Linked DNA regions of Homo sapiens: all the other regions are reported to be linked to region 1. The links are microRNA targets in miRTarBase. Many come from high-throughput screens and were not tested one by one. Region 1 holds a microRNA gene; each other region holds the end of a gene's coding sequence.

Region 1 (5,071 bases):
AGTGCCACCGATGATCATGTGTACAACAACAACCCCCTAAATGTGTGGCCCACTCCCAGTGAGCCAGCCCTGGGCTCAGAATTCTACATTCATGGCCGGGAGCGGTGGCTCACGCCTGTAATCCCAGCACTTTGGGAGGCCAAGGCAGGTGGATCACGAGATCAAGAGATTGAGACCATCCTGGCCAACATGGTGAAACCCCGTCTGTACTGAAAATATAAAAATTAGCTGGGAGTGCCCCTGCAGGCCCAGCTACTTGGGAGGCTGAGGCAGGAGAATCGCTTGAACCCCAGAGGCGGAGGTTGCAGTGAGGCGAGATCGCGCCACTGCACTCCAGCCTAGGCGACAGAGCGAGACTCCGTCTCAAAAAAAAAAATTCTACATTCATTATCTCCTTCGTCCTCACAACAAACCTGGAGAATGCAGAGGTGCTACATTTCTACCCACTTTATAGACCAAAATGTGAAGTTACAGGTTAGTCATTGTTGAAGCCAGAAACCAGGAGTCAGACTCGGGCAGGGGGGGCCTCTGGAGCTCCTGAAGGCCATCCCCACTCCCTAAACAAGGTTGAGAAGGTGTGGTTTAAAGAGGAACACCATGGAAGGAAACCAGTGCTTTCTTCACTTTTTAGTCTGGCAAAACAATCCTTCAAGTTGTTCCGTGGTTTGGAGAACAGTAATGTGTATGGGTAACAGGTGCTCAGTGGTACGGACAAGGTTATACATTTCCAGCCTCAGAGTCTTCAAGGCAGCTTGCTGGTAGGAGAACCTGGATTTGCTCATGCAGTCTTGGGCACAGCCCTCACTTACCTTAGATGCTCACCCAGCTTGGGGTGGGGCACAGCCCCTCCAGACTCCAGCCCAAACAATCCCCATCACCTCCGCATTTCCTAGTACAACACACAGCACCGAATCTATTCAGTGGCCTAAGCTGGACACAGAAAAGAACATTTTACCCCTTCCTTCCTGTAACCCCAGAGGCTCTTCGTGCACCGCGTTCAGGGACTTCTCTCTTGGGTCTCCAGTGCATCCCTGTCTCCTCCAGCTCAGGCCCCGTCACCACTGGCCACCAGCTTGGACCTCCCTCTGATCTTGTCTTCCTATGGCAGAGGCCATGCTTTCTGAAATGCTAATCTCTCCCTCTCTCACCTCTGCTTAAAATCTGCATCATGAGACCATCGCCCTCAGCACAAAGTCAAAATGGTCTTTCTAGGATCTGGCCTCTGCTTACCTTTCCTGTCTCCCTCCTGCCTCTTCTCTGGGCAAACTCCTTCCTTCCCCTGACCACCCTAAGTCCACACCCTGGGCCCTTCTGTGTGCCTATGGCACCCTGTGTCCCCAGGCAGGCACCTTGGCTGTGATTATCTGATTTCTCATCTAAATTCCTCCCCTATTCGTGCCCGCCCGCCCCCCCCACCCCCAAACACACACACAAGAGAACAAAAAATCTCTAAGGAAAAAGAGCACTTCCAACTCATTCCTGTACTTCCAGAATGCATGCAGCACCATGCCTGGCCTGCAGTATGTGCTCAATTAAACTATTGCATAATGAGAAATACCCTATGTTTTGAAGTGTCCAGGAAATTGAAACAATAATACTCTCTCCCCACAAAAAACAGAAAACAGTTATCTATGCCTCAGTTTTTGTGTCTGAAAAATGGAGACAGACTCCAGAACAGGGTTGACAGGAAGGAAGTACCTCAAAGCAAACCCTGCAGAGGCCTTCAGTGATAAGTGTTCACTTTCCCTATCTTCAGCTTGCTGATTTCCCTATCGTGGTGCATCCATCCAGAAGGCCACAAAGATCCTATCTCCCACCAACTGAACTTCAAAAGCATCTTTATCTGCAGAACCCACCTCAAGGAAGGTCGATTCCTAACTTCTCTCGGTGATCCTTTTATTCTGGGCTAGCTAGGCACACCCGCCCAGCCTTATCTGTAATGTCCCCAAGCTGTTGTCTTTCCAGGAAGGGTGTCTCCTATCTACAGGCCTCCAGGAGGCAAGACCAGGGAGGCAAATGGAGGAGAGCCACTCTGTGACCTGAGATCTGGCTTCTGCCACCCTCAAGCTGTGTGACCTGGGACAAATCAACCCATTCATCAGAGGCTCAGCTTCCCCATGTACCCCTCTGTTCAAAAAAGGGAGTAGACTCACGGACCCTCCAACTTGGAAACTGCAGTAACAGGCTGTACTGGACATGTTGAATGAACACCACAATGGCTGCCTAAGCCGATCCCTTCTAGCAAAAGAGGGAGAGTGAAGCAGAAAGAAATCAGGGAAATTTCCAGAAATCATGTCATCCTGGGTTGCCTGAAGATGACAAAACTACGACGTACAGGAGACCCCTTCCAGGAATCACATACTGCATCCGGGGAAGGCCAGAAGTAAGTGCAGACATACATGAAAAGGCAGGCATTAGGGATGGTTAAGTGGATGCCAATTCCCTGCTTCCAGAAATGAACTCAGCCTAATGAAAATTCTGCAGGCGCCTCACCTGTATATTGCACTTGGGGCTAGGAGTGCAAGCCACCCAGGGGCTCCTGACGGGCTGCTCACCTAGGTCCCAACCCCCTTCTGCCATTTCCTAACCGGTTTGTTCTCAGCCTCTTTGAACTTCAGATGCTGAGCAGCTTAACAATGTCTGAACAGCCTAAATCAGCCTCTGGCCCATTAAAGATGTCTGTTTCCTGCCTCCTTTCCTTAAAGAGTTTCAATAAGAAGAGCTCCTTTAAGGGTAGGCACTGGGTCTTTTTTTTTTTTTTTTTTTTTTTTCCTGAGACAGAGTCTCGCGCTGTTGCCAGGCTGGAGTAGAGTGGCGCCATCTCGGCTAACTGCAACCTCTGCCTCCCGGGTTCAAGCGATTCTCTTGCCTTAGCCTACCGAGTAGCTGGGACTATAGGCACGTGCCACCACGTGCAGCTAATTTTTGTATTTTTAGTAGAGATGGGTTTTCACCATGTTGGCCAGGCTGATCTCGATCTCTTGACCTCGTAATCCGCCCGCCTTGGCCTCCCAAAGTGTTGGGATTACAGGCGTGAGCCACCGCGCCCAGCCTGGGTCTTTTAACTTTTATATCCCCAGAGTGTAGAATATTTAGAATACCAGAATTCCTTTATAAATGCCCACTAAATGCGTGGATAAGATAAAAACATAAGACAGGAAGCAATCAGGGGACTGATAGTCATCAGTTCGCTTGGTAAAATGCACTCACGTGGCTAGCACTCAGAAGACATCCCAAATCTCCCTTCTGCTCTTTCTCCCTTAGAGCCACACAGAAGCTCTGCAGGCCTGAGCCCACCTACCCCACCCCACCCCACCCCGCTAAGGGGCAGCACAGAACAGCAGCAAACCATGAGGACCCAGGCCACCTGCTGGGTTCCCATCTTGGTGCTGTGACCGTGACAACTGACTGAAACCCTTAAGACTCCCCTTCGATAGTATCCACTTCACAGTGAGCTAGGAGGACTCTGTGAGTTCAAATATGACATGTGCTTAGAACCAGGCCTGGCACATGGCTCCCGTGGCTGTCAGCTATGGGATCATTCGTGCTACTATTGTTATTCCGTACAACCAGATGTTGGAAAAATTCTGGAGTCACCGAGCCACAGAAGGCACACATCCAGATCCCAGATTGCAGCTGTCAAGTCACACTTTGAGCCTTGGACTTGGAATCCTAAATCACTGGGTCAAATCCTGGCTCTCATCTACCTCTGGCGCCTGACTTTCTCCTCTCTGAGCCTCAGTTTCCTCCCCTGGAAAGCAGACCTTTCAACCTGCCCTGTCTTCCCCAAAAAGGGGATCAAATAAAACAGAAAGCATGGGCCGGGCATGGTGGCTCATGCCTGTAATCCCAGCACTTTGGGAGGCCAAAGCAGGCGGATGCCTGAGCTCAGGAGTTCGAGACCAGCCTGGGCAACACGGTGAAACCCCAGCTCCAATAAAATACAAAAAATTAACTGGGCATGGCGGTGTGCACCTGTAGTCTCACCTACTCGGGGGGCTGAGGCAGGACAATCACTTGAACCCAGGAGGCGGAGGTTGCAGTGAGTGGATATCGCGCCACTGCACTCCTGCCTGGGCGACACAGCCAGACTCTGTCTCAAAAAAAAAGAAAGAAAAGAAAAGAAAAACAAAAAAAGAAGAGAAAAAAACAGAAAGTATGAAGTTTTCTAAGGTTGGTATAGTAGGTGCTGAATAAATATATTCATTTAAATGAATAGTTTACAACCTCCTCCACACTTAGATCAGCCAACCAACCACTCTGTCCATCCTGTTTGATGCCACGCCCGTGTTCCCTTCACCTCACCACCTGTCATTCCCATGTGCCTCTCTGCTTTCTGTTAGGGGCACTCAGCTTTGATCACCCAGCAGGGCTTCTGGTGCCAGGGAATTAGAAACCATGGCCAAGATCTGAGAACATGTCTGTCCCCATATCACACAGGCTGCCCGCTGTTTCTCGGCCTTGCCCTGCAGAACGAGGCACGGCAGGGAAGCTGGAAAGTGCACCCACACCTCCCCGCCATGCGCATGCCTGTGTGCACCTTGTGTGTGTGTGCATGTTCAGGGGTTGCAGTGCTATCAGCTGCGCAGCACAAGCTGCAAAGCCTCCCAAGGCAAAGAGAAACACTCGCTCCCAGGACCGGGAAGGCCTGAAGAGGAACGAGCTGTTTGGCCCTAGGCAAGTGACTCCTCCTGTATCTCAGTCTGTTCACCTATAAAATGAAGACCATGTCCCCCATGGCCTGCAGAAGACTTTTTTTTCTTTTCTTTTCTTTTTTTTTTTTTTTTTTTTGAGACGGAGTCTCGCTCTGTCACCAGGCTGGAGTGCAGTGGCGCAATCTCGGCTCACTGCAACCTCCACCTCCTGGGTTCAAGTGATTCTCCTGCCTCAGCCTCCTGAGTAGCTGCACGGTACAGGCTTGCACCACCACACTCAGCTAATTTTTGTGTTTTTAATAGAGATGGGGTTTCACCATGTTGGCCAGGATGGTCTTGATCTCTTGACCTCGTGATCTGCCCACCTCGGTCTCGCATAGTGCTGGAATTACAGGCATGAGCCACCGTGTCCAGCC
Region 2 (5,071 bases), not on the chromosome of region 1:
GCTCGTCCACTCCCATGTCTGAGGCCTTCCACCCAACGGTCACAGGCGAAAGCCTGTACGGGGACTTCACCGAGGCCCTGGAGCACCTGCGGCACCGTGTCATCGCCACGCGCAGTCCCGAGGAGATCCGAGGTGGTGGCCTCCTCAAGTACTGCCACCTCCTGGTGCGGGGCTTCCGGCCCCGGCCCAGCACCGATGTGCGCGCCCTGCAGCGCTACATGTGCTCCCGCTTCTTCATCGACTTTCCAGACCTGGTGGAGCAGCGGCGCACCCTAGAGCGCTACCTGGAGGCCCACTTCGGTGGGGCAGATGCAGCCCGCCGTTACGCCTGCCTGGTGACACTGCACCGGGTGGTCAACGAGAGCACCGTGTGCCTCATGAACCACGAGCGCCGCCAGACGCTGGACCTCATTGCCGCACTGGCGCTGCAGGCACTGGCTGAGCAGGGCCCAGCTGCCACTGCCGCCCTGGCCTGGCGCCCTCCAGGCACTGACGGGGTTGTGCCAGCCACTGTCAATTACTACGTGACCCCCGTGCAACCTCTCCTGGCTCACGCCTATCCCACCTGGCTGCCTTGTAACTGACTCAGACCCTGGCCAGAAGGGAAGGGACTGGGCCTCACGGGGTGGGGTGGGGCCTCCAAGAGTGTGTGGAGGACATGACCAGAGGCGCAGAATGTGCCAGGAGGCCCAGCACTGCAGGGTTGGGCCTTTGATTGAACAGACCAGACTTTCCCGAGCACGAGGCCCCTGTGGGCTTAATGCCAGCCTGGGGCTCTCAGCAGGAGGACCCTTTGGTTATTGCATCACACTTTTGGACCAGCATGCCGGTGGGGTGCAGGCGCCATTTGTCTTGGAAGTCAATTTCCTTCAGGAGACAAAGCAAGTTTGGGGTGGTAGCCTTAATGCCCAGCACCTTGGATTGATTCCCATGGTCTAAGAGGGTCTTTTTGACTAAGGCCAGCCTGTGGTGATCCCAGCAGCTTTGGAGGGCCTGCAGCCCACACACTGACTGATACATGGTATGTTACAGGGACTTGTCACTTTGGATCAGGCTGGGCCACTACAGGGCCTGATGGGCCAACTTGGGTAATCACTGGGAGGAGGGAAACTGAGGCCCGAGGCAGATACCTGGGTTTGGGGAGGGCTGGGTTTAGCCCGGTTCTCTGAACTACATACCCCCAGCTGTGAAGCCTTCCTCTTGAGGGGTTGAGGTGGGCAGTATACAGGAGCCAAGCAGCCCAGGGTGGGTCGCAGCCCAGGCCCCTTCCAGGGTGCCACTCCTTTCCCCCTTGTGTTGCAAGGAGCCCTCCTGCCTGGGAGCTTGTTCTTTGGAAGGTGCTGAGCCTGAATTTGCCACAGTCAAGTCAACGTTCCCACCCCACTGGCTTGGTTACAGGGCTCTCACATGGGGTAGGGGAGCCATACTCCCACCCCCTTGCGTATTCCCCTGGGTTTGTTGATATTTTGCACTCTTAACACCTGCCAATAAAGACGGTCTACACTGAACCTTAGTGCCATGCTTCCTCTGGGGAAAGAAGGACCTTCCGTAGCAGTGGGGGTTGCAGCTGCCTCCCCCAGTTGGAGTCTGGCTTGTACTGTGGAAGGGAGCATTTGCGGGGGCGGGGTTTGAAGCCTGGGCTATGGCTGGGGGACTGCCCCTCCTTCTCCCAACCCCAGCCGCAGCCTGACCAGCTGTATATTAAGAGCTGCTGTCTACATGTGTGACCTGCACGTTGCCTTAGCAGGTCTAGGGCTCTTGTTAAGGAGTAAATATTTTTATGTTTTCTACCTGGAATCCAAATAGCTCTGGGCCTAGACTCAGACTCTGGTGCTCAGGGGTACTTGTTCCCAGCTCTGTCTACCCCGTCTCTTCCAAGGGAGCAGCTAGAGAACAGGCTGGGTGAATCTGGACTGGAGGCCCCTCCAGTAAAGGTGGCTGAGACTGGGGAACTTGTAGGGTTCCCCCTAAGCCTGAGCCCAGGTAGGGCCTCTATTTGGGAGAGGCTCCCTCAGTCCTCCAGCTCCTTCCCTTGCCCCGAGCACTGATGGGTGTGCTCTGGCTCGCTCTAATCAGATCCCCTGGATGGGGAGGGTCTCCCCTTCCCAAACCCACATGGGGCCATGCCAGGCTGTCTAGGAGTGTCAGCCGCAAGTTCCTAGCATGCTGCGCCCTCAGAGTATCAGCCAGTCAGTCATGGGCCTGGACGCTGCCTGCTGTTTGCCCAGACTCTTTGATCCAGGGATTGCAAAGCCCTTAACATATTCAGCCTCATTAGGGGCCTCTGAAGTGGTGACTTTGATGGTTCTGGCCAGGGTGGAAAAAACAATGCTGCAGAGGAGGCCCCAGGTCACCAGGGTGAGTCCAGCCACCTCACCTGCTCTGAGTCCCTTGTGCTGCTGGGCTCAAAATGGCTGGAAAGTGAACAGAAAGGCTTTCTTTGCTTGGTGACTAAAACCAGCTCCCACCCCCATCCCAGCTGTGACCACCCAACTATGGTCATGGGAAGGACTAAGTTTGTCTCACCTCCTGAGTTGGCTATTTCAGCCTTGGCATGAGAGGCTCACAGTGTAAACACAACAGACTTACCTTTTTGGGCTGGGGGGTGGAGTTCACCTGGATGTGCTTGTTTAGTTAAGGGCTGAAAAAGCGAGAAACCCATTTGGTACATGTGTGTATACACTGCATTCAGCCACCATGTGCCAGACACCGTTCTGGGTGCTGGGAATACATCAGCAAACAAAAGACAAAATCCCTGTCCTTGTGAAGACTACATTCTAACGGAGTAGATAGAAAATAAACCGAACCGTATGGTCTTAGATGATCAGTGATATGTAAAAATATAGCAGGGTAAGGGACTGGAAATGCTGGGTTTTGAAAATTGAAAAATAAGTCAGGAGCCTGGCGCAGTGGCTCATGCCTGTAATCCCAGCACTTTGGGAGGCTGAGGTGGGCAGATCACTTGAGGTCAGTAGTTCAAAATCAACCTGGCCAACATGGTGAAACCCCATCTCTACTAAAAATACAAAAATTAGCTGGGTATGGTGGCGTGTGCCTGTAATTCCAGCTGGTCGGGAGGCTGAGGCAGGAGAATCGCTTGAACCTGGGAGGCAGAGGTTGCAGTGAGCTGAGATCATACCACTGCACTCCAGCCTGGACAACAGAGCGAGACTCCATCTCAAAAAAAAAAAAAAAAAAAAGTCAGGTGCAACTCATTGAAAGGTGATATTTGATTGAACAAAGACATAAAGGTGGTGGGAGGTGGGCATGAAGATGTTTAGAGAAAGAGCATTCCAGGCAGAGAGCTTGCCTGTGAATGTGCATGCACTGTGGCACATGTACCTGAGGGTGTCTGGCAGGCCTCGTCCAGGTGCTGGTACTGCACACACGCATGGGCCTGAGGCAGTGGGGGCGTGTGAGACAGTTATTCACAGTAGCAGCCACCATTCCTGGTGGGCTTCACTCCAGCAGGCACTATGCTGAGGTCTTCCCAATCATGATCTCCCAAATCATCCTTGCAACAACTCCACAAGGGGAAAGAAAGCATTTCCATTTGGCAGACAGAAACTGAGACCAGAGAGGTCAAAGAGGTTTGTCTGGATCCAGAGCCATTGCTGTTAACCTCTGTTCCATCCTGCTCCTGCACTGTGATTTCACATGATTGTGACAGTTGTCTCCTGTACGTATGTGACAAGGCATAATTTGACATTACTGTGACATTTGTCATTTTATATGTGACTATGGCACAGTGTAGCAGTGTGGCAAGATGTACATTTTTTTTTTCTTTTTCTGAGACGGAGTCTCGCTCTGTCGCCCAGGCTGGAGTGCAGCGGTGCGATCTCAGCTCACTGTAACCTCTGCCTCCCGTGTTCAAGCGATTCTCCTGCCTCAGCCTCCTGAGTAGCTGGGATTACAGGCACCCACCACCATGCCCAGCTAATTTTTGTATTTTTAGTAGAGACGGGGTTTCACCATGTTGGTCAGGCTGGTCTCGAACTCTTGACCTCGTGATCTGCCCACCTCGGCCTCCCAAAGTGCTGGGATTACAGGCGTGAGCCACCACACCTGGCCAAGATGTATGTTTTCTTGATATACATGTGACAGTAATTATGGCTTGTGATGACTGTCCAGGGCTCATGATGGCAGCAGCACGCCTGTGGTTTTGTTTGGGAGTGGTGCAGCGTTTCTGAGTGTGAGAAAAACACCGACTCAGTGGCTGACATGGTTCCTCCTGTGGACAGTTCCTGCAGCTACCTAAGACACCAGGACAGGCAGGAATCAGGAACTGGGACTCAGAGCCAGCAATGCAAAGGCTGAGAGGGAAAAGCCCTGTCCTCTACCTTCCAACCTTACTGTGCTCTCCAAGCAACAGTCCACCCACCCCTTCAGACCCGAGGGTTGTGGGAGCTCCGGATGGGGAAGGAGCGTTGCTGTGGACTTTGAGGAACAAGGCATAGCCTCAGACAGTTACATGATATGCTGCCCTTCCGCTTTCACTCGCCACACTTCTGCTCTGTTCCCTGGGGGCTGGCATCTGTGGACTGCATCAATGGCTCCCTTGTTCCCCGGCTTCCTGTTGGGTTGCCAATGAGACATCCCAGCGTCTTAAGGAGACTTAAGGGAGGAGTAGATATTTATTCTCTTTGTTCCCTCTCTACCAGGTTGCCATGGTTGGCCACATCTCTCAACCAAAGGTCACGGTTCTTGTCAGGGGCCCCACTCCACACAGTGACCTCTCCTCACCCTCAGACTCAGGAGTTGCAAAGGCTTCTCACTGTTGCTGGCCCCAGATTGCTGAACCATCCCATTACATTTTTTTTTTTGGGTGGAGGGGGGAGAGCACTCACCCAGGCTGGCATGCAGTGACGCGATCTCAGCTCACTGCAACCTCCGCCTCCCAGGTTCAAGCCACTCTCATGCCTCAGCCTCCCAAGGAGCTTGGACTACAGGTGCACACAACAACGCCTGGCTAATTTTTGTATTTTTAATAGGATGGGGTTTCGCCATGTTGGCCACACTGGTCTCAAACTCCTGACCTCAGGTGATCTGCCTGCCTCGGCCTCCCAAAGTA
Region 3 (5,071 bases), not on the chromosome of region 1:
TTGTCCAATCACATTTGCTGAAAATACTGTAGCATGAGTGTAGACAAACTTCCCCTGAAGCTGCTAGAAGTGTCTAGTTAGGAGAATCACTGGATGACTGCATGCAGAAGGCCTTTAGGGAACCTACAGTCCAATCTCCTTACCTTATGGTGTAAAGCAGGCCCAGAAAGCGGAAGTGACTTGTCCCAAGTCGCAGCAAAACAGGAACAGCCTGAGGCTTAGAACTCACTTCTGATTCCAGAGTGAGGCTCTTCCCTCCAGCTGATAAACATGGTCCGTGGCAGGCAAGGACCAGAGCGAACCTAAGCAGGTTAGGGGCGGGGTGGAGCCACCCAGGAGGCACTAACAGCGCAGCAGCTCATGGGAGAGCTTCCAAGAGGCCAGCTGGCAGCAACCCACCTTGGGTACTGCCGACCTCAACCTCAGGGGGTCACGGGAGCACCCTAGGTGGATGAATTAGCATACAAGTCTCTCTGGTCTGTGCCAAAGCTTTGGGGCCTTGCTAAATTTAGAAATTTGAGGCCAGGTGCAGTGGCTCACACCTGTAATCCCAGCACTTTGAGAGGCTGAGGTGAGCAGCTCACCTGAGGTCGAGAGTTGGAGACCAGCCTGACCAACATGGAGAAACCCCGTCTCTACTAAAAAATACAAAATTAGCCGGGTGTGGTGGCGCATGCCTGTAATCCCACCTACTCGGGAGGCTGAGGCAGGAGAATCACTTGAACCCAGGAGGCGGAGACTGCAGTGAGCCGAGATCACGCCATTGCACTCCAGCCTGGGTAACAAGAGCAAAACTCCGTCTCAAAAAAAAAGAAAGAAATTTGAAAGCAGCCAGCAACATCAAGGCACAGATGGAGCTTGAGCTACCCTCTTCAGGCTATTCAGAAAATTCTCCCAAGGGGAAGTTGGGAAGGAGAACTTCTATTTGGCCCCAGCCTAAACTCTCCTGGAAGCTCGATGGGGCCTCTGTCAGCTTTCCCCTCTGGACCTGCCCATTTGTCCCAGAGGTGCCCACTGAGGCTACCTCAATGCCTGTCAAACTAAAACTTAAACCTAAGAGTGTCTGCAGCATGGTCTCCAGCCAGCCTGATCAGAAGACTATGGAGGGGGCCAGGCACGTGGCTCACACCTGTAGTCCCTGTAATGCTAGCACTTTGGGAGGCTGAGGTGGGTGGATCACCTGAGGTCAGGAGTTCAAGACCAGCCTGGCCAACATGGTGAAACCCCATCTCTACTAAAAATACAAAAATTAGCTGGGCGTGGTGGTGGGCACCTGTAATCCCAGCTACTCGGGAGGCTGAGGCAGGAGGATCACTTGAACCTGGGAGGCAGAGGTTGCAGTGAGCCAAGATCCCACCACGGCACTCCAGCCTGGGTGACAGAGTGAAACTGTCTCAGAAAAAAAAAAAAGAAAAAAGAAGGAGGGGCATACTGACTCCTCACTGAAGAATGGGATAGACACCCTCTATTCTACCTCTCCCAGCAAGGCCATAAGTCTTTGCTCTGAAAGGAGCCAGACTTTAGAGCCGGCTACAGGTGGACATGGGGTGAAGACATCAGGTTGCGAGGGTACCCTCTCTCGTTCCCTAGGAGCCTGGCCCCTGCAAGGAGGGGCACCTTTAAACAATCAAGCATAGTGAGTGGGGCGGCAAGCAGAGCAGAGACACAGACGACAGCGGGGTGGAGCCCCACCAGTCCCTCTGAGTATAAGGCAGAGGGAGTCCCGCTGGGGTCCACATCCCTGTGTGTCTCGGGCTGATTTGGACACAAGGCTCACACATTCATCCTACCTGCCCCAGTGCTAGCTGGCCGAGGATGCCAGGCTGTACCCGACCTTAGGCTGTGCGGCTTGGAACCTGGACCGGGGCAGGAATTGACAGGTTCCCCCAAACAATGTCACTCCCAGGACCCTAAGACCTCAAGCAGCAGAAACCACAATTCTGGATGTTACGTGCAGCGCCAGCTCCTGTCTGCCCTGCCTCCTTATCCCTTTCTCCCAGGGCGACTTTGGACCAGGTCTCGAGGCCGGGAGACCGGCCCCAGCCCGCCCGACCGGGATGGGCCTGGCGCCCGGGGGAGGCCGCGTCGTGCTGAGACAGCTCCGAGCTGCCTCCCCGCAGCCGCGGGCCGCTACAATACGGATTCGGCGGCGAGAGGAAACAGTCTGGCCCTCCAGGGGACGCAGGGAAATCCAACCTTTGGGTCGGGGGCAATTAGGACTGGGAGTCGATACCGCGGGCAACGAATGATGAATGAATAAATGAAAGGATGAACAGAGTGGCGAGGCGGAGATGGGCCATGCGGGGCGTCCCGAGGAGGGTGCCCTTCCTTGCCCCGATGCTGCCGGGACCGTCCCTCATCCCCCAGGTCGCAGCAGACTCAGCCAAGACACCCGGTCCTAGTGCGAACACCTCGCGGGCCCCGGGAGACGCCTGGGCGCGCGGTGCAGCTCTGGCCCGGAGCCCGCATTCCGGCGGCCGGGAAGTGCCTGCCCCGTGGGCAGAACGCGCCGAGTTGCCGCGGCCCCAGGAGCCGTCCTGCCCCGCGCGGCAGCAGCCCCTCGCGGCGGCCTCCGGAACCCCCGAGACCGGCCCCCGGGCCGCAACCCCTTACCCGCCCTCCTCGGTGGCCTCGCTCCGGCTTAAAGCGGTCATCCCGGCGCCTGCACCCAGCGCCCCGACCGCGCGCCGGGACCCAGCGCCCGCCGGACCCCGCCCGCCCCGTCGAGAGCCCGCCCCGCCCGCCCGCCCATTGGCGGGTCGCGCGGGCCGGGCACAGCCCATTGGCCGTTCCTCCCCCTCATTCCCCAGCTTCCCCAGCTTCTCTCCTTCCCCACCTTCCCCAGGTGGGGCTCCAAGCTCTGAGCAGATCCTAGCGCTCGGTTCCCCGGACTGGGAGGTCCCGGAGGCCAGGGCCTGGCGCGGCACCTCCTGTCCCTCACGTCGAGGGTATTGTGTCCCCTCTGGACGCTTCTGTCGTCCTAGTCTTGCGGCTTGGGTCCCTCTGCAGGAACCAATTCCGGCCCCTCTCCAACCTAACCCTTCCCAACATAGAGCTCCGGATAAGTTTCAATTTTACCGTCAGTGGGGAACACCAAAGGGGATATTGAACACCATGGTCTGACAGCCAAGTCACCACCACGAACCCGGGAGCCAGGATGCTCCCACGCACTTTTGCCGGAGTTAACATTGCAGTTTCTCCAAGGAAATACACTTTTGGAGGAGTCTGCAAAGGGGCTGAAGGTGGACACAAATCAAAGGCAGGGAAGCAGAGGCACGTGCGCTCAGTGTGACAATGAGCTTTTGCCTGGCCTGCAGGCCCTTTCCTCTTCCATCCCCACCAGGACACTTGGTCCTTGGGAGTGTGGTCAGGGGAGAGGAAAAGCGCAGGCCAGATTTGGTCCCATTCCCAACTCTCTCCCCCAGCCCTTTGGCACTACAGCATCATGGTGGGAGGGCACCAGCAAACAGGAGGGGTCCCAAGGGGAGCCTAGGTCCACAACTGAGGACCTGGGAGCCAAACCCAGTCTCAGGCGCCCAGAGCTGACTCCTCCTACAGCCCCCATAAGGGATACGCTAATGCAGGAAGACCAAAGTGGAAGAACCATGGCCAAGGCCACTTTGCAATTTGGGTTTATCTACCAGAGTGGGAGGGAGGCCTTGTCCCTGCTCTTTCCCATCTTCGGTTCACGTAAGCCATTAAAGTCTCCCCGCAGCACTGAAGGGGGCAACCTGTAACCCTAAGATAGTAAGCTACTGCTTTCCCAGCGCCTCTGCACCAGGAGGTGGGCAGGATGGCAGGTGACACCACCATAGCTCCCACTGCGGGGCACGAGGCTGCAGCCATTCCCAGCCTGCTCAGAGGGCAGGGTTCAACCACCTCCCCCTCCCCAGCAGAAAAGAGAGGAAACAGGTGCTTCAGCTGTTGTTTATTGACATACAGGTAGGCTCTATAGCAACAGGCCTGGAGGTGCTGCAGTAGTGGGGGAAAATGGAAGGTGGAGGGTGGAGTGTTTGCTGCAGGACAGCTGAGTGGAGGGTGGGGACAGGTGCAAACTGGAGAGGCCTAGAGAGCTAGAGAAGCAAGTAAGGGCCAGGGCCAGAGTCGGCTTCAATGGAACAACAGCCCAGTGCCCTAAGGCCCCTAACTCTTGCTGGCTGTTTCTTGACCCCAAGCCAGGGTTGGGAGTCCTCTGGGCATCCATTTTTTCTAAAGGAACTGGACAGAGTACACACAGGAAAGGAAGCTGTCACCCTCTTGCCATCTGGCTCCAGGGGCCTCCAGTCCAGCATTCCTCCTTCTTCCCTTGATTGGGTGGGGCCACATGATGGGCAGCCAGGCTCTGGGCTGTCCCACTAGAGCAGGCTGCAAACACAGCCATGTTTCAGTGAGGCGTTGATCTTCTTCCCTGGTGTCCCAACCTACCAGTGCCACGTTACAGCCCAGAGTGAGTTCTACAAGCGTTGCTGGCCTAATGGATGGGCTGGGGGAAGGGGGTGGGACAGGGGCTGGAGGAGGGGCTCTGGGGTCCATCACGGCACAGGAACAACACGCATGGTGTTGGTGAAGCCGGAGCCAGGGCGCCATCCGGTCAGCACAATGACCACATCTCCCTTCTTGAAGAAGCCTCGGGCCTTGCCTGGAGGAAGAGAAGGGAGGTTGGTGAGTAAAAGCCAAGCCAGGCAGGTTTGCACCTGGGCAGCTGCCCCATAGCCTGAGTACTGAACTAGGCTGGCTGACCACTACTTCCTCACACCACAAGGTGGCACCAAACTCACAGCCCAGGCAAACAGGAGGAAGGCCCTGAAATGTCCTTATCACTCAGATGGCAGGGTTGGCAGGGACCTTTGGACATCATTCACTATCCTGGAGAGGGTGCAAAGCCTTGCCCAGGGTCAGAGCTAGCTGCTTCCTGTCATCTGATGATACCCTACCTTATACAGGGACAATGGCCACATCAGTACGTAATCTGTGTATGCCACCCCACAGCACAGGAGCTGTGGCCAATTTTATTTAAAAAAAAAACAAAAAACAAAAAAAACTCTCAGTAATGAGCAGATGCCAAAAAATG
Region 4 (5,071 bases), not on the chromosome of region 1:
TTCTCAAACTTCCTTCAGTTTCCCTATCTGTCAGTTAAGTCGGTATTACCTGCTTCATAGGGTTATGGGAAGAATTAAACAATATGTGTAAAGCACTTACTAGCACACTGCCTAACACAATAAGTTAGAAATATAATTTGTGTAGAACTCTGACAACATACATTTAAACAGATGTTAGTAATTCTGGTATAAGGTTTGTCATAACCAAATGGAAATGTAGGAAACATTTATAACGTTCTTAAAAGATAGAAAATTCACCTCCATTTTCTTTGTACTTGAAGATGGCACCACTGGAATAAATACTTAAGACACTGATACTGCTTATAGTCCTTTCTTCACTGAGTAGTTACATAATACATCATTTTACTAGTGGCTTTTCTTTTAAAAAAGATACTAAAATTAATACTTCTGCTTTATTTAGATGGCTTCTTTACCTAAAAAGACTCTTCTGGCAGATAGAAGCATGGAATTGAAAAATAGCCTCAGACTGGATGGACTTGGATCAGGAAGGAGCATCCTAACAAACCGTTAGGAACAGCCCCGTGGATACTGAAGTTTTTTTTATGGTAGTTACAGGAAACTTCTGATACTCTTTTTATTATTTTCTTGTATAGAGTCAGACACTTGAAAAAAACTAATGTTTGAAGACAAAAATATTTTGGCAGTCACAATACCAGAACTGGATTGCATTTCCAGAATTCTGAGTTAAAGAAACAAAGTATTTGCTTTGTAAAAGGCCAAAATTCTATTTCCTACAAACTTTAAATGCTGTTTTTATAGATGTGATATGAGGCAACACAAGCACAGACAGTTGCATAGATTTTAATTTATACATATCAAGAAAAGTGCAATTTCATGCTGAATGAAGCGTAGGAACTTGACAAGCCCATAGGTAGCTATAGTTCTTTGTCAGTATAGGGAATTATGTTCATGTGAATTTCCTGATTCTCAGGTGACTAAAAAGCTAGCATTCTATGTATTAACCTTACAACAGACTCTGTAAGTTTGAGCTTTAAAAACCAAACTTTGACATAACCTTATTTCTTGTATTTGCCCCCTTTTTTTTATAAAAGGTGAATAAAAAGAAATAATTTAATATCACCATTGTATGGATTCCTAATCAAGATTTCACGTTCTCAGCCCCTGAGACTAGTTTTCTTTGCTCTCTGTAATTAGAGCCTTTGGAAGCAAAGTTGAAAGGAAGTATTTCCATTCTGTTACTGTTTTGTAGCACTTTGTCCATTTATTGATTTTTAAAGTAGATATTTAGATACCACCCCTGCCCTGCCCCAAAAAGAAAAATGTTTATTGTCCTGCTAATCTATATGCCTACACCTCAGAAGCTGACAGATGAGCTTCCTAAAACATGAGGATGAATAAATGTTAGAACTGTGATATCTTCTCATTTCCACAGAGATTTGGGTTTAAAACAAATGGCTAATATTTGTAAGCCTGAAAGCTGCCATCCTCTTTAACATCCTACCTACCTTTTAAAATATTTTCTGGAGGTTAAGTACAGTTAGGCACTAGAACATTTGTTAAGCCTCCCAAAGTAGTGTGCATGGAAGATTCTAGAGTGTCCAGCTCTTGCACTACAAATGTAATAATAACAGAATAAATACACTTACCCTGATGATATTGAGGGTACATGATTAGCCTAATGTGATGTCATATGAGGAAGTTTAGGAGTCCATTTTTCAGGTGGTTTGGTGATAGGAATAAAAATGTTACTCCCGTCGCTGATTTGGAAGAAAACCGATGAAGTACAAGTAAGGTTTCCCCACTCCTGTGTGTGGTCATGGGAAGCCATTAGAGGGAAGCTGCAGAACAGAATGGAACAGGACAGGCTGGGCTAGACTCGAGCACGCAGTGGCCCCTGTGCCACCACACTGTGGGTCAGGAACACGCGTCATGGTGTTCTTGTCGGAATGTGAACATACAGCACCCTCTAGCATTACGAATCTCTTAGGATTTTTAAGATTGTATTTGATAATACTTATATTTCACAGGGCACACTTTTGGCACACCTCAGAGCACACTGCTGCTATTTTGGGTCGTATCACTGTAAAATACATAATAAGTACTACTTAACTGTGACATGAAGAATTGGAATCCCAGAGGGCAACATTTGATTTGACTAAGATCAGGCATAAGATAGAATTTTTGTCATTTTTCCTTGCAGTTTTATTGACTTAGTTTATGAGCTTGGATAAAATAATTTTTTGATGAATCATGTCAATAAAAGGAAAAATAATGTAACTACCTCATAAGTCTGATAAAAGGAAGTTGCTAGTGTTTTATAGAATTTCTGAAGGTGGTTAAATCAAGTATGATTTCAAAATATCAACTAGTTCCACTTTTGTGATTGCAGGATGCTTCTTATACTAAAGTTCTCATAAATAATAAATCAGCTTATGCCAAAAATATATGAAGTTCCTTGGTTTTAAATTTTGAACTAAAATGGACTGAGCACATTAATTACTGTTTGAAAGTAGGTACCAAACACTGGGTTATGTGAGTGAGTAAGCAATCATATCGCCTGTCAAACACATCAAGTGTCGAACACGTCAAGGTGTGATACTGTCTTTGGAAGGCTCCTAAACAAATGTGAGCACAATTATTAACACCTTATTCTTCATGAACACAGACTGTTAAGCAGCACTAACCAATTTTATATTAAAAAGCTATTTATTTTGGTGAGTTATTCCAAGAGTTGTATACAGCTTTATTTTTTGGAATTGCAATATTAAAGTTGCACGTTGGATTTAACTCTCATGACTTTAGTAATACCTACAGAGGTGAGCTAATGGATGGTACATGGAGTAGGGACTGCAGAGACCCTAGTTTTGTCCCCACTCCATCTTCAAATAATTTTGGTCTCTTAGGTCTGTGATACAAAGGCATAAAACAATTCCTATCTTGAAGCCTTGAGAAAAGCTGTTACATATACGCAGATAGTAGCAAGACAGAAAATGCAAATATGTAAATGTCTTCTGATATCTTGAAATAAAGATAAATTTCAGTTAAACTTGTATAAGTTCAGATTTCTGTTAATGAGAAATTACAACCCTACAAGGTAAGGTCTTTACATTTTAGTTATTAAGCAGAATCAATGCTTAAAACTATAGTTAATACTTAGTGGAAAGAAAATTTAATCCATGTATCAGGATAATATATTAGACTGTCATGCATTAATTTTTTCCTGTATGCCAGGTTTTTTACATACGTGCCATATCAGTTGACCTTTTACAGTAGGAGTATAATTTACATTGTTTTTGACATTGGGGTTAGTATGGTTAAATGTCCTATAAACTTGAAGCTTGCTTCCATTTTTGTGGGTCTTAACCTCCACCTGGTGCTTGCTATTGGGTGTATTCAGGCATTGAGAAAAATATAAATCGTGAGGTAAATAATGGTCATGTTTAAACAGAGGCCTTATCATTTAGTGAAGCATAAAAACTGACACTATATAAATGCATCCGTCTAATGAAAAGACCCAGTACTGAGAAAAACATCCCTTTACTCAAGTGTCAGATGTCAGAGTGCTCTAACTGCTCAACTCATAAGTGAATACAACTAAGTAATTTCTGGTCCCCTAAAAATAACCATCCTTTTAATTAAAAGTAATTCTTCAGATAGGTTGGGCTACCAATAATTGTCCCTAAACAAAACCAAATGGCGCTTCCTTGTGCTTTTGCTGTGCCATAGGTTACTATGCAGCTAGCACATGTACCTCTTCCAGAAAAATGAGGTCATCCTGGGAGTGACCCAGAGATGCTCTCTAGGGATGTACCTCTTGATGTTCTTGTTAACTTTCCACTCTTCAGCTGGATTCCTCTTCCTGTCCCCTTTTCACCAGTCTCTACTCTTGAGAGAAGCTGAGAAGAGAAGGGCTCTTCTCATTTGTTATTTTCTCCTGCTTTTAGTATCATCTCACCCGTGGCAGAAGAAAGAGGTTCTTCCCAATTTAACACAAAATAAACTAGTTACTGTTTACAGATAATGCCCGCTAATGTTTACTGAAACTGAAACCCTATGATACATTCCATTCCCTTAAGTGTGCCACGCTGCAGGACTGACAAATGAAATCCATCCTACGAAAAACAGCCCAGGAACAAGCGAGGCCAAGGCCTGCTTTCCTCTCCGGCCCTTACAGTAGCGTGTGGCTCAGGCCACATCTTTTCCCTCTAGTTCTTTTGGCACAAGTTGTAACCTAATGCGACAAAGGTCCCTCATGAGATGGCTTAAAACTAGCAGTGTCGCTAGGCTCTTTAGGTGTTAGAACAGCCAACTCTACAAAAGTATTGGAGGGCACAGAAGGGTGATAGTCTTGGTTTTTATATTTGTCCTTCACTATATAAACATTGAAAAGGTATTAATCCTCATTAAGAAAGGATTATCGGCCAGGTCCTGTGGCTCACACATGTAATCCCAGCACTTTGGGAGGTCAAGGTGGGTGGATCACCTGAGATCAGGAGTTCGAGACCAGCCTGGCCAACATGGTGAAACCCTGTCTCTACTAAAAATACAAAAATTAGCCGGGCGTAGTATTGTGCACCTGTAGTCCCAGCTGCCTGGGAGGCTGAGACAGGAGAATCACTTGAACCTGGGAGGCGGAGGTTGCAGTGAGCTGAGATCACATCACTGCACTCCAGCCTGGGCAACAGAGCAAGACTCCGTCTCAAAAAAAAAAAAAAAAAAAAAGGACTATCATCCTTAGCAAACTAACACACGACCAGGAACAGAAAACCAAATACCAAGTATAGCATGTTCTCACAAGTGGGTGCTAAGTTAAAAGAACTTATGAACACAAAACAACACACACTGGGGTCTACTTGAGTGGGGAAGGTGGGAGGAACAGAAAAGATAAAACCTTCACATGTACCACTGAACCTAAAATAAAAGTTAAAAAGGACTAAGTCACAAGTGATTTGGAATGTGAGGTTATCCCTCACCCCCATGCTTTACTCTGTACTATTTTTCCTCCCTCAGTTTCTTTTTTTTTTTTTTTTCTGTATACTATGCTTTCTATTATACTTTGATTGGCATGGGCCAATCTGTTATTTTTAAG
Region 5 (5,071 bases), not on the chromosome of region 1:
GAGACTTCCGCGTTCCCCCCCCACACACACCCCTGCCCCCCCAACGGCCCTGTCTGGCATTTTCCTGACGGTGCTTCGCAGTAAGCTCCGAGAGAACCAGCTGCCCAGGATCCAGGCGGGGGACCCTGTGGCGCGCTACTTTGGGATAAAGCGTGGGCAGGTGAGCCCTGTGGGGAGAAGGGGCCCTGGGGCTGCTCTGAGCTGACCACTCGGAGAAGGGGGCTTCTGTCCCTCCCCGACAGCCCCTCCCCCTTGATCCAGGGCCTGGAGGGGACCTCGAGACCACACCCCCAATATCCCCCTCTTAAAGCCAGGGCCACTGGGCCCAGAGAAGAGCGTGACCCAGGTTCCCAGGGAGCGGGTCCCACAGCCCAGGGTCAGCCATCTCGGACCCCTGCCGGCCATCCCCAGCCCGTGTGCTGCCCGCCTGCTGTCTGGTGACTGCAGTGAGACCCCTCAAGCATTCGCAGCCCCTGCTCTCTGTCTCTGCAGGTGGTGAAGATCATCCGGCCCAGTGAGACGGCTGGCAGGTACATCACCTACCGGCTGGTGCAGTAGCTACCGCCTGACAGGTGAGACGGCCGAGGGACAGGCACTGAGGTGGGGTCAGAGGCAGGGGTGTCGTCCCCTCCGTCGGTGTGCAGGGCTGTTCTTGCTTTGTCCGGCAGCAAGACCCTCCTAGCACCAGCCCAGCTGGGCCACCAGGCGCTCCCAGGACACCCCCAGACCCCCAGACCCCACCCGACCGTAGGCTGCAGCTCTTGGGGCTGTGCGCCTGGACGGGAGAGTCCTGGTACGCGGGGCGTGCGTCTCTCCGCCGCTGACCCACCTTAGAAGCAGGAGACGTTCACCTGCAGGGCAGTTGTGCGGCGGGACTTTCCAGAAGAGGGTTTAGAAACCTGCCCAGAGACCCCAGAGCTGAGAGAGGAGGCACAGCTTCAGGCCAACCCTTCCCTGAGTGGGCACCTTGGGAGGGACTGGCCGGAGTCTCAGGAGCGGGACAGCCTCTGCCCATGGCGAGAGCCTCCCAGCTTCCCCTGGACTCTGGTCATGGCGAGCTGCTGTCCTGCAGGCCGCCCCACTTCACACTCAGCCCAGGGGTGGGGCTTGGCCTGGTCTGACGCTGGCACGGTTCCTTTGAGGTCAGAGCTACTGCCCACGCCTGTGTGACCGCTGGGCACAAGGGAGCCGTCCGGCCTCTGCACTGCGGCCTGGGCCGCCTCCTGCCAGGCCTCCCGCACCCCGTCACGTTCGGTGGGCGTTGTGCTGTCCTGGGCATACTGGATCTGCCCCTGTCGTGTGACCACTCTCCCCCTTTCCTAGCCCCTAGAGGCGGACACACAGCGACCCCCATCCCTGCAGGACAAACGCCCCTGCCCTGCCAGAATCCGGCCCCCACAGCTCTCACGGCTGCTGCTCCTCTGGACTCCCCAAGGCAGGTGGCCTCCACCCACGTTCTCCCGTCCTGGGGTGAGGCTTCCTGTGGCCCAGCCCGCCCCATTCACCTGTGGATTTGTGCGAGATGCAGCCTCAGAAGGAACAAGGCCCCCAGAGGGAGGTCACCTGGGGGCAGCTGGTGCCGGGTCTTCACCCAGACCACGCTGGGTCCCCTCTGTTGGGGGTTTGGGGTCCGGGTCTCCCACCAGCCACTGCTTCCTCCTGGGCCCTCGGCCTTCCACCCCTCGTCTTCCCTCCCTCGGGGGCCCTGATGCGTGGCGGCCCCCGCCCGGCCTCGGCTCTTTACTCCATTCACAGCCATGCACGCGCTCAAGCCACCAGGGTGCGAGATGCCAGCTCTGGAGTTCTCGGTTGTTGTAGGAGGTTGGGTGTTTTCAAATGGTAAAGATGTTTTGAGCAAATAAATTTGCTTGATACAGAAACCAGGCCGACTAACAAGGTTTCCAGCAGGTGGCCTTGCCTCACCCCAAGCACACGAGGTCAGCCTGGCAGGTGTGCCCTCCTCGCGCTGGCTTCAGGGGTCAGTGTCTCCCCAGGCCCTCGCCCTGCCCTCCCACTTCGTGCTCCTGGGTAAGGCGTGAGCGTGTCTGTCTCTTCCCTTCCCGTGAGGGTGTGGAGTTGTTCTCTGGCTTGTGCAGCTGTGGTTTGCGGCCAGTTCCTCTTACAGACGTTTGGGATCTGGCTCTACTTCCCCGTTTGCTTACTGTCTGATTTCAGAAGGCCTCGCCTGCCCAAGTTTAACCTAGCCACGTGGTTCTCTCACAGTAGCTTTATTAAGATGTAATTCACCCTCGGGCGGTCGGTGGTCTGTAACGCGCCCACTGTTCTGTGCAGCAGGGTCCCCAGATCCCCAGGCCGCGGACTGTGTGTGTGATGGGGACAGTGCTTCCCCTTCTCTCCAAATGTACTTTTTTCAAAATTGTCTTGGCCAAAGCAAGCCAGACCCAAAGGGACAAACACTGATGTCACTCCTAGGAGGTCACTAGAGTCGTCAGAGACTGGAAGTAGGATGGGGGTTCCCGGGACTGGGGAGTTGGGTGGGGATGGGGGTTCCCAGGGCTGGGGAGGAGGGAGGGGACAGAGTGTGTCATGTGCACAGTTTTAGTTTGGGAAGATGAGAAAATTCTGGAGGTGGCCGGGCGCGGTGGCTCACGCCTGTAATCCCAGCACTTTGGGAGGCCGAGGTGGGCGGATCACCTGAGGTCGGGAGTTCGAGACCAGCCTGACCAACATGGCAAAATCCCATCACTGCAAAAAATACAAAAATTACCTGGGCGTGGTGGTGCATGCCTGTAATCCCAGCTACTTGGGAGCTAAGGCAGGAGAATCACTTGAACCCAGGAAGTGGAGGATCGCTTGAGCTCAGGAGTTAAAAGACCAGCCCGGGCAACACAGAGAAACCCCCCACCTCTACAAAAAACTTTAAGATTACCTGGGCACAGTGGCTCACACCTGTAATCCCAACACTTTGGGAGGCTGAGGCGGGAGGATCATTTGAGCCCAGGAGGCCGAGGCTGCAGTGAGCTACGATTGTGCTCCTGTACTCCAGCCTGGGCCACAGGGTCACACCCTGTCTCAAAAAAAAAAAAAAATGCAGTTCCACAGGCGCATGGGCCACGTTTCCAGTGCTTGGTGGCCATGTGGGGCTGACGTGCGAAACCTTAGAGCCGGGGGATACGTCCGTCATCGAGAACGTTTTCCTGGACTGCCCTGGGCTGCAGGTGGACGTGACGAGGTCATTCGATGCCTGACCGTCTGCACAGCCTGTGGTGAAGACCACCCGGGCTCCCACCTCGCGGGGCCCCGTGGCGGGGGGTTCCCTTCCTCACACATCCCTCCCCTAGGGGGAGGCCCAGGGCCACGCCACGGGGCTCTCTCTGTCCCCTCCCTGGCCCCTTCTTCTAAGCTTGCAGCTGCCACAGAAAATCTTCTAAGCTTGCAGCTGCCACAGAAAACACCCGATTAAAAACTTTTTATTTCAGCAAAATAAACGTGCCTGTGAAAGAACCACACGGTGGCTTCCGAGAGACCCCACTGTGTACCTGAGCCCCAGGTGGCCACACCTGGTGTTCTGGAAAAGGGAGTCCAGGGCCAGTATTCAGGCCCTGCTGTACTGCACCCTGGAAACTGCACCAAACCCCAGCTCCGCCCCCATCCACGGCTCCCAGAATGGTTTCTGGAGTCCCTGCAACAGACCTGTGAGGAGAGGGCAGGGCAGGGCCTGCCTCCTGCGTCCCCGTGATGACCTGGGGGATGCACTGGGCAGGGACAGCTTCCTCCATCCACACAGCCCTGTGGGCACCAACAAGGCCACTGTGACTTCACACGACAGCAGTGTTCCCCAGCTCAGCTGAGCCGGGGTGCAGGGGACAGCACAGGGCACAGTCCTGTGCCGCAAGGCCCTCGTGCTCCTGGAAGCCTCTGGGAGGAGGCGCCCGCTGGTGGGACGTCGAAGTCCAGGCGCTCTCGGCAGCGACCCCAGGACGGCGCACCTAAGCTATGCCGTGGTGCAGGGGACGTGCTGGAGGGACAGGAGCAGGCAAGAGAGAAGCCACCTGTGGTCCCAGCCCCACCCCAGCTCACACGAATTCCGGCTGCCTTTCCCTGCAGGAGCCCAGTGTCATCCGCCCGCCACGGAGCCTCATGGGGGGCAGTGGGGCCTGCAGCACGTTGTTGGACTGGTTGGTGTTGAATCCTGAGAGCTGCTGGGCCGGGCCGTCCTCGTCCCCGTCCCCGTCCTCCCGGGCTGTGGCCTCCAGCTGCTCCTCACTGCCGCTGTGGCTGCCAGAAGCCACCTCTAGGCTGGCCTCGCTCTGCTGCTGCTCCAGGAAGCTGAGGTGGCCCAGGGCACTGGCCTCCGATGAGGACAGCAGCTCGGAGGCCTCCTCTAGGTCCGAGTCCGAATCGTTGGACACAACTCGGGATTCTAAGAAAGGGAGACAGATGGCGGGGGGAGACAGACAGGAGAGATGGAGGAGAGACAAGGGGAGGGACAGACAGGAGAGATGGGGAGAGACAGGAGAGGGGGGAGAGAGATGGAGAGACAGGAGAGATGGGGAGAGACAGGAGAGATGGAGGAGAGACAAGGGGAGGGACAGACAGATGGAGAGACATGGCGGGGAGGAGGAGAGAGAGACAAGGGGAGAAACGGAAGGAGAGAGGTGTTGATAGGGTCTGGCTCTGTGTCCCCACCCAAACCTCATCTTGTAGCTCCCATAATTCCCACGTGTTGTGGGAGGGAGCTGGTGGAGGATGGTTGAATCCTGGAGGTGCGTCTTTCCTGGGCTGTTCTCATGATAGTACGTGGGTTTCACAAGATCTGATGGTCTAAAAACTGGAGTTTCCGGACACAAGCTCTCCCTTTGCCTGCCACCATCCATGCAAGATGTGACTTGCTCCTCTTTGCTTTCTGCCATGATTGTGAGGCCTCCCCAGCTACATGGAACTGTAACTCCATTAAACCTCTTTCTTTTGTAAATTGCCCAGTCTCAGGTATTTCTTTTTGAGACAGAGTCTCTCTCTCTTGCCCGGGCTGGAGTGCAGTGCCATGATCTTGGCTCAGTGCAACCTCTGCCTCCCCGGTTCAAGTGATTCTCCTGCTTCAGCCTCCTGA
Region 6 (5,071 bases), not on the chromosome of region 1:
GAGACTCCAGGCCCAGCCGGGTCCCGATGGCGAGAGCGTTGTGGCTCAGTGAAGCACTGGCACAGAAAGGCTGGACTCGAGGAATCGAGGGGTGAAGATGGAGTCGGCTGACATTTTTTGCCTTAAAAATACATTAGGAGTCATAAGCGTGATGACACATGGAGTGTAGCTTCTTGCACCACTGGATCAACAGTAATCAATTTCATGACTCGGATAAGGTCCCCAGGAGCCTGGCAGAATGTACATCTCCCTCTCCCTTCAGAGCCTTACATATAATCTTCTCATGACGATGGCAAACAGATATATTTTAAATTACACGTAACAATTATACATAGTGTATATCCAGATCCGTCTGCAGGCGAACTCTGCATCAGTTCCACATATAAGCCTCACGCCCCCACCACCCTGCAATTTCCCCGTCCTCGGAACTGTCTCACGAGACCACCAGCGCACAGACACGAACATGCCTCTCACACACCCCAGAACGCAGCTGTGCTGGAGTTGGGCACAAAGGCCCCTCACTCCCTGTCTTCATGGTGTGGGTTCTTGGCTGCCAACAGAACTGTCAGCCTTTATTAAGAAGGAAGGGTCTGTGTAAAAATGGGATGTGTGAATCAGAAGAGGGGCCCTGGCACAGAGCCAGGCAGGCTTGCTTTAGCATTGAGTCCTGCGTCGCGCAATGCCCAGGACCTTGCCTGTTAAGTCTGGGTGGGGCCCCTATGGGGCATGTCCACGTGCCCCCCACCAGACTCATTGCCCTGTCTCCAGTCTCCACTGTGGGTTGGGCTGGAGGCCATGCCACGTGGGACTGCAAACACCAGCCAGTTCACAATGCCTGCTCCGTGGCAGGGGCACGGCAGGGAGGAGCTGGTATCATCAGCGTTTCCACCCATCTGAACAAAGGTGAGCGGGCCATGCACCCTTCCAGCTGTGCACAGGGATGTGCTGAAGGTGCAGGAGGCAGTGCGTCAGGGCCTTGGTGGCTGGGGTAGGTGGAGAAGCCCGCTGCCCCCACCATCCTGCGGTCACCCCTGGACTCGTATTGGATCCTGGCCACTGTGCTAGAGTCAGCACAAGGGACCAGGTGGCTGGCTGCCTGAGAGAGAAAATAAGTCACAGTGGAAAGAGTTTTTACTGCTGCAAAAACCAAAAGTGGGGGGAGATCTCAGCAATTCTGACAACAGTATACATTTAGCGACCTTTCTGAGACAGCCTGGGGAAAATGCATCTATCACTGTCCTCTTGATTTGGAAAAATAAATCCGATGCATAAAGCCTTGGACAAGGGTGTGTGAGCAGGGATGATAAGTAGAGTGGGGGGTGTGTAGAGGCCTGGTCTCCTCCGGACGGTGCCCCTCCCAACTGCAGAGCTGCCCTCCTGTAAGCCGGCTCCCGAGCCAGCTGCCAACAAGGCCCCCACTGCCTCCCTGGAGACCCACTTCATCCCCCTCTTCAGCAGAGGTCCTGAGGCAGGGGGGTGGAGATCTGCTGGGTTTGCTGCTTCATGAATTTGGGCCTTCGGAGGTCATGAACACATGCAGGGCAGTCACAGGGGTTGTGGGAGACAGGAAGGGATGTTTACCCATCACAAATGGGTCTTTCCAATGTGGGTATTTGTGGCTGGTGCACAGATAAAAGTAGACACAATACTCCTTGGTGGGTGTGCCTCTAGTAATGTGTAAGTTCTGACTATGTAGGAAAATCCTGGCCAGTGGAACTAAGAATATTCTTGTTTGGGCAAGGGAACTAAGAGATGTGAAACTATCATTTTTTTTTTGCTTGTGTGTATTTTTATTTCAGGGAAAGAAATGAGGGATATGATAAGAAAAAGTCTATTAAAATTGTAAGGCTTACTCCAGACACCATTGCTTAAATCACTCCCCTCTCACACAGAGAGAAAACCCCTGGCAAGTGCACAAAAACACTACTCATAAAAGCACGGTGACCAGTGAACTATTATGCAAGGCACCCCCACGTGTCCTTTCCTAACCAGGAAGCCCGTCCTCTAAGGAGGGGGCATGGGTCCCATCCCTGCCCAGCCTAGGCGTGCTTCTGTGTCCAGCTTTAAGGCCTCTGCGTGAGGAAGGCCACAGACTCCCAGCTGTCAGCACGCTGTCATGATGAGACTTGGAGCAGGGGAGACGCACCTTCTCAATCTACAAAATGAGCCATGGCGCCCATTAAAATGTCAAATGTCAACTCTAAATAGTCTATTGGGTGCTGTCTTGCACGGAAATCTCAGCCAGAAAGAAAAACTAGAGAAAAGAAAAAAAAGAAAAAAGCAATTCTCTCCCACCACTTCACTTTTCTTGGAGACTGTCTATCCCTCGAATTCTCTTTGCCTATGTAGAAAATAACGGAAAAAAAAATCAAGCAAATAACTACCAGGTCCTAAGACAAGAGACAACCAAAACCCCAACAAAATAAGTTAGTATTTATCAAAATATGTTACAACACCAATCTCCATAAATGTCAATATCACTCTTTGGAAATCGGAGCTCTGGGCTCTTATGATGCTCCCTCTGGAACATTCAAAATGAGATCAGAATAAAGCTCCCAGCAAGGTGAGCAGGCCTGATACGGAGGCTCAGCCCATGGCCATCCACCCGCCCTCCACCGCCGTGTTCACAAATTCTTGCACTTCTCTCCAAGAACCTTCTGGGGGCACAGGGAGGGTACAAGTGCCCTCAATTTATCAGGCTTCTTTCTACCAGATTTGTGTCAAAGGCCAGACTAGGAAGAAATGGAAAGGAAACTAAGTTTTGAAAGCAGCATTTCCATTTCCCCTGGTGTCCAAAATGCCCACATCCCTCCTCCTCCCCCATCAGCATGGGCCTTCTGTCTCCTGAAGTAGACTCAGTGGAACGCTCCACCCACGTTCAGGTTTCCTCTGGCTCCCATCTACAAGGAGTGTGTGTGAAATGGTGCTGGCCGCAGGCCCCGACCCAGGCAAGACGGGGGTGGCGTGCACTGGAGCTATGGGGGTGGGGAGGATGCTCGGGTCTCTCCCACTTGCAGAGGCGTGGGGTCCGAAGCATCCGGATGACAGATACACAAAAGGGACAGCAATATGCCTAGAAATCACCTCCCCTGCGACCCACGCATCTCAGCTATAGGACAGCCGCAGGGGTGATGACATGGCCATTTCCAAGTTAATGTTATGCCCTAACTTAATCTGGTGGAGTGTCACAATTTCATGGACTGTGGATTGATTTCAATTTCATCATGTCACAGAGAGGCCAGACAGCTTATGTCAGGGCCAGAAACGCATGACCCCGACATGTCCTGACCCCAGACTGAGCTGCCACCAGCCTTGAGAACCTTACAGGAGCCACCAGACTGGCTCCAAAGCATGGGAGGGCAAGACTGAGTGAACGGTGGCGACTCACAGGAAACAGACTTCTGACTCGGCCACCATGGGGCCAGTCCTGCAGATACTGTCTCATGTTCCAGTTACTCAGGACACAGCCAGTCGGGGGAGACGGCAGGAGCAGCAAGAACTGGCCCAGGCCTGGAGGCCGTGAGCTGAAGGTCCCTGGTTTACATGCATGTGCACACACATGCATAAGCAAAGCAGGCCCTAATGGGAGTGATCCCTTCTTCCTCATTTGAGTGGAGCCAGCTGCCCTCAGCCCCGGGCAGCTGTCATGGTGTCAGAGCAAAGCCCTGAGAAGCCAAGGGGCAGGCAGGGTCCGGCCCTAATGACCCATCTGAATGCAACCGGAGAAGGACAACAGGCCTGATTTTCCTTTTTAAGTGCACTACTGTCATTTGGCTCTGGGGTGGGGAGCTGCTGGGGACACACTGTTTTGTGGTACTCATCTGGCTTGATTGCTGGGTGTCTGGGGCTGAGCGGGAAGATGGCTGCGAAAGTTTGGAGTATGCACAATTTCAATCCCAGAACAGTCCCCGGGAGGAAGGCCTGGTTCCCAAGATAAGGAGAGAAGGTGACCTCCGTTCTGCCTGAGGCTGCGGCAGCTCGGGGCTGAGCTGGTAGGGGAGGAACTGCTTTGTTCAGAGAAGTGAGGAGACACAGTGGCCAGCCGCAGCCTAGTGGCCCCGGCCAGGCAGCTGTCTGGAGGTGACCAGGGCCCGGAGAACCGGCTGCAGAGCCGAGGGTGGGCTGGGGCTGCAGGTCAAGTAATTGCACCTTTGGCTGCAGTGAGGGTGTGGACGCAGGTGGTTTCTGTTGCACTGGTGGGGAGGGTGGGGTGCCTCCCGGTCCTCTGGGGGCGTCCCTCGGGGCTGCTGCCACCTCCGGGGGGCGGGGCTGTGCGTCACTTGCACTGGTCCAAGTTGCCGTCAGGAGTCCTTGCTTGGTCGGCATCCAGGGACGCCTCCTCGCTGTGCCACAGGCCATAGCCAAAGTAGATGATGAAGCCTGCGGGCCGACAGCAGAGACGGGCGTGAACAGACCGCCGGTTGCACCACCGCAGGCAGGGCTCAGAGCCCAGGGCGGTCCCACAGCAAACCCTCTCAGGCGGCCTGCCCCTGCCTGGCATGAGCCCGCAGCCAGCGGCCCCTGTGACCTTTCCACATCTGGAGCAGCTGCCACACGAAGGCCACTGTCTGCTTCGACATCTGGCAAAGCCCTACGTTCCTCTGGACGGCCTTATGCTGCGGTGTTTCCTGAGCAGACAGAGCAGCTGGGCCAGGGCCACCAGAGGCCATCGGGTCCTTCAGCTTAGCCCCCTGATGCCCCCGGAGGCCACGAGAGTATCGAGAATGTGCACTATGGAGATGGGGTTTCCCGCAGGTGCTGGAGGTCTCCAGGCTCTCAGCCTGGACAGTCCCACTGCCCATTTCTCCACATAACTGAGCGTCAGACTGCAGGAGACACTGAGCCCCAGGAATGGACTTCACATAGGAGTCCACAGCCTGTTCCTGCACACGGGACTCCAGGGTGGGTCCAGGACCTATGCTTCTTACCACCTGCCCAGGGGCTGGGGCCACCTTGTGTGGCTGACACAGGAAAACAGGCCTTAAAGCAAGGACTCAGCCACCCACAGCCCAGGAAAGGAGCTCAGGCTCCTGCACACAGGGACTTTGACAGGGATGCTGGGAAGAGGCGC

Evidence for each region. The annotated mature microRNA hsa-miR-1205 reads UCUGCAGGGUUUGCUUUGAG and lies in region 1 at 1,699-1,718, opposite strand. An mRNA with a match to its seed (bases 2 to 7 or 8) in the 3' UTR can be bound and repressed. Matches are read on the target gene's strand: a 7mer-m8 pairs with bases 2 to 8, a 7mer-A1 pairs with bases 2 to 7 and ends in A, and an 8mer does both.
Region 2: the mRNA of TENT5B is a reported target of hsa-miR-1205. Seed matches in the 3' UTR shown: 7mer-m8 at 993-999.
Region 3: miRTarBase lists PKM as a target of hsa-miR-1205. Seed matches in the 3' UTR shown: 7mer-m8 at 4,017-4,023.
Region 4: the mRNA of MRS2 is a reported target of hsa-miR-1205. Seed matches in the 3' UTR shown: 7mer-A1 at 1,821-1,827 and 7mer-A1 at 2,830-2,836.
Region 5: miRTarBase lists POLR2E as a target of hsa-miR-1205. Seed matches in the 3' UTR shown: 7mer-m8 at 1,356-1,362.
Region 6: miRTarBase lists SLC7A1 as a target of hsa-miR-1205. Seed matches in the 3' UTR shown: 7mer-m8 at 4,129-4,135 and 8mer at 352-359.

Annotation. Positions count from the first base shown.
Region 1 is chr8:127,957,287-127,962,357 of GRCh38, reverse strand. MIR1205 (microRNA 1205) reads right to left here and starts at 1,725; the gene lies at 1,663-1,725. The region is part of intron 3 of PVT1 (Pvt1 oncogene); the gene reads right to left. RefSeq lists a cis regulatory region at 1,856-1,967 and enhancers at 1,374-2,349, 4,198-5,009.
Region 2 is chr1:27,001,457-27,006,527 of GRCh38, reverse strand. It overlaps TENT5B (terminal nucleotidyltransferase 5B), which reads left to right. Exons shown (of 2, transcript NM_052943.4): 2 at 1-1,508. The coding sequence ends at 584. Among named protein-coding and RNA genes, the nearest start is that of TENT5B, 8.9 kb to the left of the region's middle. RefSeq lists enhancers at 1-124, 125-768, 2,057-2,701, 4,252-4,411, 4,129-4,732.
Region 3 is chr15:72,195,118-72,200,188 of GRCh38, forward strand. PKM (pyruvate kinase M1/2) reads right to left here. Exons shown (of 11, transcript NM_002654.6): 11 at 3,912-4,639. The coding sequence ends at 4,533. It overlaps GRAMD2A (GRAM domain containing 2A), which reads right to left and starts at 2,670. Exons shown (of 12, transcript NM_001012642.3): 1 at 2,614-2,670. The coding sequence starts at 2,654. RefSeq lists an enhancer at 2,108-2,287 and a silencer at 2,398-2,817.
Region 4 is chr6:24,423,163-24,428,233 of GRCh38, forward strand. MRS2 (magnesium transporter MRS2) reads left to right here. Exons shown (of 11, transcript NM_020662.4): 11 at 422-3,028. The coding sequence ends at 532. It overlaps GPLD1 (glycosylphosphatidylinositol specific phospholipase D1), which reads right to left. Exons shown (of 25, transcript NM_001503.4): 25 at 2,670-5,071. Among named protein-coding and RNA genes, the nearest start is that of MRS2, 23 kb to the left of the region's middle.
Region 5 is chr19:1,084,973-1,090,043 of GRCh38, reverse strand. It overlaps POLR2E (RNA polymerase II, I and III subunit E), which reads left to right. Exons shown (of 8, transcript NM_002695.5): 6 at 82-160; 7 at 493-572; 8 at 1,324-3,470. The coding sequence ends at 558. ARHGAP45 (Rho GTPase activating protein 45) reads right to left here. Exons shown (of 23, transcript NM_012292.5): 23 at 3,416-4,384. The coding sequence ends at 4,038. Among named protein-coding and RNA genes, the nearest start is that of POLR2E, 7.9 kb to the left of the region's middle. RefSeq lists enhancers at 989-1,088, 3,655-4,154.
Region 6 is chr13:29,510,204-29,515,274 of GRCh38, forward strand. SLC7A1 (solute carrier family 7 member 1) reads right to left here. Exons shown (of 13, transcript NM_003045.5): 13 at 1-4,380. The coding sequence ends at 4,277. Among named protein-coding and RNA genes, the nearest start is that of MTUS2-AS1, 25 kb to the left of the region's middle.